Linked DNA regions of Homo sapiens. The protein of the gene in region 1 purifies or fractionates together with the protein of each later gene. This does not show direct contact. Each region holds a gene or a part of one and is shown in the gene's direction. Other genes may lie near its edges.

Region 1 (3,915 bases):
CAGTGGAATAGTGAAGGTGGTGAGAATCATGGACTTTGGGGTCAAACTTGGATTCTGTCACTTACTTAAGAGTGTGATTAAATAAACTGCTGAAAGTTTCTGGGCCTCAGTTTCTTCCCCTGTTGAATGAGTATACCCTGAATTTATGCCTTGGCAATGCGATGCAGACTCAGTCCTTCCCCAGAAGGAAGTTATTCCTACTCATAGCACATCACAAATATGCTCAAAGCTCAGAGGATGGTGCCAAACATTTCTTTCCTCTTTCTCTTGGACTTCTTTCAGTCACAGCAGAGTCTCTTTCCCAGTTCCTCCCTTCAGTCCTATCCTACATCTATACACATCTCTCTCTTTGTTTACTTCCATCTTTTTTTCTTACCTACATCTTGCTAAGGGCTGGTCATTCTTCATGACGTTAGCTCTAGAAGACAAAAACATCTACCTCTGTAATACAGCTCACTTCACAAAGCATAATTTTCTGCATATTGTCGTTCAAAGACTACTTTCCCTCCAGCGAAAAGGATGGACAGGGACACAGGGCATGAAGGTGCCAGAGAAACATACTCTATCACTTTATCCATGAATAGTAATAGCCTTCTTGTAAGGCTGTTTTGATAATTAAATGAGATAGCATTTGAGAAGTGGTTAGCACGGTGCCATGGGCATGGTAACCATTAAACAAATGATGGCTATGACTATTACTATTCTTAAACATGTGTTGAGCAGGAGAATTGGTGCTCCTGGGCCTGCTTTACTATAGCAGTCTTCCCATCCAGGAGAGACAGTATGTGTGTGAGTCCCTGCCCAGAGACTAAATGTTGACTTGTATTCTGAAACTTGCTGTGGAATCTAGTAGTGGCATTCAACCCTAGTGTTCACTTTTCTCCTCCTCTCAACATGTGCTCTTGGTCCAGCATAAGCATCTCCCCTGCTGGCTTTTCTTGGTAGCTCCACCAGCCTGTAAAGTAGGCATACAATTTTGTGTTCCAACCAACTTTGTCCATGGTTAGCATTTTCTTATTCAGTTGTTTTGCTCCTTTGAGTTCCTTTAGTTTGGCTGTATGCTAAAGACATTTAGGATAGAGTTGGCTACTGGTAGATGGCTGGTATTACAAACATTTTTGTTGCTACTCAACAGACTGTGTAGGAGAGCTGGCCCCCCTCCAAAGGAAAAGTAAAGAAAAACTATTCAATTTACTATGCAGATGCTTCAAAGTGATTTAGAACAACTACTCCACAGCCCGACTTTCCAAAGAGAAAGTCATCTTTACGACAAGTAAGTGACTGACTCATTTATCCAGAAGATAAAGTGATTCGTTCTTGTGTGGATGGGGAATTCAGTTTCCTTATTTACAAGGAACAAGGTCAGAGCTGAAGATGTTTTCTTCCAAATACAAAGCCAATTTGTAGAGGGTGTATTTCACTGAAAGCCAATGTGTAAATTACATAAGCGGGGGAAAAAAGAATTATAGGGTCTGCAATTGCTTTCCAGGGTACAAAAGGACATTTGATTTTTTTTTCTCCCAGCGTAATTCAGAAGAAAGTGACACCCCAGGGAGCCAAGATTGGGTTTTCTTGTAGGGCAAGAAAGACATTTTTCTAGAGGAGGAAAAGGTAACACGAGGGTCTGGGAGAGGTAAGGATGATTTCTGCCATTGAACAATGCTGTATATGAAGGTAGGCAGTTCTCTTTGATCATTAAGTACCTTTCTGAACACATATATATCAATATAAAAGAGTGGAAGTAGCTTGAGAATGTTTCTGCTGAAGTGGCTTACAGATGATGTTTGGATGAGAAGAGAGGCAGGAAGACTTACCTTGAATCTCTTTTTTAAGAGATTGTGTATTAATCCATGCTTTTGGGGGTTGGATGGTGAGATGAGGTGTCTAAATCTCTCTTCAGTAGTCACCACAGTAGAAATAACTTTTTTGTCTAATTGTTCCTCCATGAAGGGAGAATAAGAGATGCCAGAGACTCATCAAGGTGAGCTTACTGAACATCTTCTGTTTTCTGGGCTGGCAAGGTCAAAAGGAGGCTGTGGTTTCTCCCTTTGGGGTCCACATCAGTCTGCTGTCTCATGTTTCCTTTGTCTTATGTTTTCATGAGGAAAATGCTGCTAAAATAAAACTCCCACTAATCTCTGTCCCTAACCTTCTCACTTCACTTAACAGATTGATGAGTTGGGAGGAGGAATTGACTTAGCTTGCTCAACCTTGGGTCTAGAGGATCCTTGAATTCTTTGTTCATTTATGTGGCAGGCTTCCAGTAATAAACTCTGTCTGCCAGGGAGAGGCCTGCAATTTTAGGGTATAAATTCAGTTTGGGGGTAGAATGTTAGAAGCTGTGTATGGCCCCCTAACTAAACATATGTAATCTATTTTATCAGTAGTAAAGATGATATTCTGATCTCTGATTGTCATCTTCATTTCATTTTTTAATAGGTCCTACACTAAAAAGGGAAAATTACTTATTGGGCTTCTAACACTCTTCGTGCTGTGACACCAAGGGTCTTAAAGATGAGGACAGGGCAGCCCTAGCTACAACTTTTCGTTTATCCTTTATTTATCCCCCACAATCTGTTCCTTACCTGTTTCAGTCCACCCAACTCCCAGTGACTTGACCTTCTAATTCAATCTGCTGGTATTTAATCTGTCTTCATCTCTTGATCTTCATGACCCCCTTGATAATCTCACTTTGAATGCTTTCTTCATTTGGTATCTTTCACTCTGACATGTCTGGTGTTTTTTTGACTTTGGAGTCATGCAGACTTGAGTTTAAATCCTGACTCTACCATTTCCTAGCTAAAAGACCCAGAGGTTAAATTTTCTCAGCCTTTGGTCTTAAATCTCTGAAATGGGGATGAATATAGGACCAACCTCATAGGATTGTTCAACGGCTGAGCAAGTTAAAGTATATGAAGATTTAACACAGTCCCTTGCACATAGTAAGTCCTCGAAAAATGGTAGCTATTATTTTCCCTTCTTCCTCTCTCGTGCCTATTAGGATTTCTGAAGCTGTAGGTAATGATCCTCTATCTTTTCCATTTATACCCATTTAGACTGTCACTGAACTTCATGGCTTCTGCCAGCACATACTTTGATGACACATAATAACTCCATCTTAGCTTTCTAATGGGGAGCATCTATTGTGTACATTTTTTGCTGACATGAATGGCTGGGCGCGGTGGCTTACACCTGTAATCCCAGCACTTTCAGATGCCTAGGCGGGCGGATTACTGGAGGTCATAAATTCAACACCAGCCTTACCAACATGGTGAAACCTCGTCTCTGCTAAAAATGCAAAAATTAGTCAGGAGTTGTGGCATGATTTGTAATCCCAGCTACTTGGGAGGTGAGGCAGGAGAATCGCTTGAACCCAGGAGGTGGAGGTTGCAGTGAGCTGAGATTGCACCATTGCACTCCAGCCTGGGCTAAAAACGTAAAACTCCATTAAAAAAAAAAAAGATGAACTATCCTCCTCCTCATTATCTGTCCATCCCAGATTAGTATGTTCCTTATTTCTGTCAATCAGTGGCAACTCTTGTTTGTCCTCTATCTCTGGCTTCCAAGTTGTATTCTTTCTTCCTCCTATCTGATTAGTATTAAGCCCTATACTTGTTTCTTCTCCCAGCTTCAGCCACCCCTCCTTCCCAGCACTAGCCCTGACACCAGCCTGGGAGCCGGTTGGTGCACTTCCCATTAGCCTCCCCTCCACTCTCTGCCCTCGATGCACTTGTCTTCTCCTCTGTGGGTTGCTGATGGTGCTCAAGGATCACCTGATGATCTTTATGTTAGTCTTTTATTATTTACTGACTTATATTGCTCTCTAACTCTTTGAAATTATTTGTGTCTTTTCTCTTCAACTAGGTTGTAAACTGCTTAAAGACAAAAAACAGGTCATAAATCTCCCAGAATTAC
Region 2 (3,915 bases), on another chromosome or scaffold:
GGTTGGGGGAAGGATAGTGTCGCCCCCCCTGCTAATGAGGGAGTTGGAAACAGCAGTTTCCAAAGGCTGTGAGTCACCCTGTGATCTGAGTCACACGTGAGGCTTAGCATCGTCAGAGGGGTGGGGGCGGGGAGGCCTGGGGTCTCCGATGGCAGACAGGACTCCAGACACCCATTCCCTGACTCAGTCTGGCTGGCCAGGACAGCTGGCGGAAGACCCAGGCCTGTTCCCGGTCCTGGGCCACTGCCCCAGCTGCCCTCAGCCTGGGCACCATGCCTGAGGCGTGGCGTAGGAGACCACGATGCTCAGGTGACCTCACCCGTTACACTGACCTTCGCCAGCTCCTGTGTGTGGGTCGCTCAGTCCATGGTGCCACCTCGCTCAGCAGGGCCTCTCAGGGGTCCTCAGTCTGGCCCAAGGACCAGGGCCTCAGCCTAGCCCCAAGAGTGGGCCACAACCTTCAGCTTCCTGCTGGGAAAACCCAGGAGGTGAGGACGGAATCACAGAATTCTAGAATGTCAGAGCCAGAAGAGATCATCTAGTCCAAACCTTTCATTTTACAGATGGGGGGACGCAGGCCCACAGAACAGGCATGACCTGCTGAAGGTTACCCAGGGAGTCATTTAGGGATTGCAAGATCATCAGGAACAGGGCTGGGGCAGAAGAGAAGGCATCAAGTCTTGGCCCTGGGTTTCTTTCAGAAACAAGGAGACCAGTGCTGGTCCAGTGGCTGTGATGGGAAAAGATTATTACAAGATTCTTGGGATCCCATCGGGGGCCAACGAGGATGAGATCAAGAAAGCCTACCGGAAGATGGCCTTGAAGTACCACCCAGACAAGAATAAAGAACCCAACGCTGAGGAGAAGTTTAAGGAGATTGCAGAGGCCTATGATGTGCTAAGTGACCCCAAGAAACGGGGCCTGTATGACCAGTATGGGGAGGAAGGTAAGAGGGCAGCACTCCAGCCCAATCCCGGACCCCTCCGCTTGGTAGGGGTCCCAGGTGCACCAGTTTGTGTAGCGGGGAACTGGAGGCTGTGGAGGGGGTGAGGGCAGCAAGGGTTTCCAGCACTGTCACCCAGAGAAGAGAGAAGCCCACCCACTACCCAGCTCAGCTCACCCTAGTTCTCCCCGCCTCTCTCTGCCCCCTCCCTCCTCGGGTTCAGGCCTTAGAGAGGTCTGAAGCAAGAGCCAGAGGCCTTCCCCGCCCTTCTTTCCTTCCCAGCCTTATTAGTCCTGCCTGAAGTCTCCGCTGCTTCATTGGCTGATGAGGAAGGTTGGGGAGAGGGAGTGTGTGGCTCTCTGAGGACAGAGCATTTACATTCATCAGCATAAAAGTCTGGCCCTTAAGCAGCCTGGGAATTAACTACCAGAGCTCTGAGCAGAAATGGTTTTCCCCTTCTCTCCCCCGGCCCTGCCTGCTTCTGGCCAGCAGAACAGAGGTGGAGCTTTGCCTCCCAGAGGAAGTGGCAGGGATCCAAGGGTGGACGGGGAACTGCTGCTGGCATCTTCCCCCTTCCCTGGGGTAGCTGGTGGCCATGGGGTGGGAGGCAGGAAAGGCCCAAATAAAGCCTCTGAGAGGGAGGCCCCTCCCAGCACATCCCACGGCCATGATGTAGCTGCTAATTCTGGGCCTGCCCCTCAGGGCTGCCTGCCACCCGCCAGCCACAGGCACCTGTCAGGCTATATTAAGAGACATTGTCACGCTGAGGACTCTCCTTCCTGGGAAGAACTGTCCTTCCTCCCCAACAGAATCCACCTTTCTTTCACATTCTCCTCCTCTTCACCCTCCCCTTTCTATCCTCAAAACTAAATGGGCTAATCATATGTAGATAAGAAGGTTATTTTCTTCCCCTCCTCCTGGCCTTGTGTTCCATGCCCCTCTGTGAACCCTCATCCTCCCAACTCCCTTTTCCTATTCTCCATGCTGCCGGTTCCTTCCATTCTTCCTGCCTACCTCCTAGACGTGCCAACTCCCAGATTCACCAGATACCGGCTGGAACCCCCAGTATTCTTTCAGCTAAGACATTTTTCTCTCTGGCATGGAGGGATGGGAGGGATAGGAGTGGAAAAGAGGGAAGCAGTGCAGACACCATGCCACCATGTGACCTGTCTTGGAATTGCACCCATTCCTCCATTCAGCCTCACCTTTGTTTAGAAAGAAGGCAGGAGCTGGGAGAGCTCCCTTGAGATACTTCACCCCTTCTGCCTAAGTGAAGGGGTCCAGACACCAGGTTCTGATGCAGAACCCCATCCCAGGAAGGCCCCTGAGGATGCGGCATGGCCTTAAGGGGACCTCCATGGCCTGGGGAGGGAGAAGCAGCTTAGAAATGTTGGTTATATTTCTGTCCACCCTGCCCAATCCCCAGCAGCCATTTATTATAGAGCAGTTATACACACAGACTCTGTGTGCAGCTCCAGCTAGGGACAAGTTGCTCCCAGCTTGAAAAGGGGGTGGTAGTGGAAGAATAGAAATCCCTATAGAGAGAATTACCCCTTCCCATCATCATCAGTCCAGCCTCCCTCCCTCTCTCACTGAGCTCTGCCAGGCTGCTTGAACTCGCTTGATAATCAGCCCCTCGATAGAAGGAAAGGAGAGATCCTAGGTCTTGGGGGAGGGGTGAAGAGGCAGCTGCCACAAGTCCCTGAACCGTCTGCCACTTGGCCTCTCTAGTGAAACTCAAATCTGCCCTTGTGGTCCCAGGAAATAAGAGGCTAATTTAGGCTCAGATCTCCATGATCAGTTGAAATTCTAGATAAATGGCCTCAAAGAGAAGGGTCTCTTTCCTAGCCTGGACCCCACCCATAGTCTCTGTATTCCGGAGCAGTTCTCAGTGTGAACCGTCTCCCCACATCCCCCACTACTGCCAGCACCCCCTCCTGTGCATGAAGGCTGCCTCCAGGAATCTGAGCCCCTTAGACAGGACCTGACAGAGAGAGCAGCTAAGGTCACCACTGCCATGTGCCAGCCCATTCATGCATTTTGGTTGCTCAACATTAGGTGTGGGGTATGGCGTTTGCTGTTGTATAACTCCAGGGAGCTCCATTCCCATTGTAGTCTATGTCTGTACAATGTGTGAATGACACTCCCTAAAGTTGTGTAACACCGAGCAGAGTGTGGGAACAAAGCATTTAAAAACTTTTTCTAGAAAAATAGCTCTTCATCTCCAAGCTAATGAGCTTTCCCACTTTTTAAGGCTTCCTGATTTCCCGTTTGAGCAGGGGCCAGGGAAAGAGGAAACACTGCTAGAAGCAGAGTGAAAGTGGTCTTCCTCCCGGGTTGGATCCCTAGCCTATTTGCGACTGTTCACTTACCAGCCCCCTCTGTGGTCACATCCTGTCTGATGGCCCCTTGTCCTATATGTCTTTGGAGATAAGCAAAGATTTGGGAACCAAGTATCACTTGTAATGTGACACCAGGCTAGTCATTCAAGGCTTTTTGAGACATCTTTGGACCATGAGTATGTGGAAAAGATTACAGGACTGGAAGTCACATCCTCTAAGTCCTCTAGTCCTGGCTTTTCCACCTATTGGGTAAGCAAGCCTCTTTGAATCTCAAGTTGTGCATCGTTATTAAATATATAATTAGGAATGGAAGATAATCTTGCCAGAAGCCTTTCTTACTCTATTAGCCTGGCCCTCTCTGTGGGATTTAAAGGTTGCTTCTTTCTTTAAGCCTGTGAACTGGGAGCTAGAGGGCAGGGGGAAGACACTGGGATTGGGGCCAGAATAAGCCACACTGCCCCTAACTTCTCCTCCCCTCTAGGCCTGAAGACCGGCGGTGGCACATCAGGTGGCTCCAGTGGCTCCTTTCACTACACCTTTCATGGGGACCCCCATGCCACCTTTGCCTCCTTCTTTGGTGGCTCCAACCCCTTCGATATCTTCTTTGCCAGCAGCCGCTCCACTCGGCCC

Evidence for each region.
Region 2: the proteins of ASB4 (region 1) and DNAJB5 purify together in Homo sapiens (affinity purification with mass spectrometry; 4 studies listed by BioGRID and IntAct, with this or other methods). This does not show direct contact.

Annotation. Positions count from the first base shown.
Region 1 is NC_000007.14:95,530,893-95,534,807, forward strand, and holds part of ASB4 (ankyrin repeat and SOCS box protein 4), read left to right. Parts: intron 1-3,915.
Region 2 is NC_000009.12:34,992,499-34,996,413, forward strand, and holds part of DNAJB5 (dnaJ homolog subfamily B member 5), read left to right. Parts: intron 1-701; coding exon 702-946; intron 947-3,766; coding exon 3,767-3,915.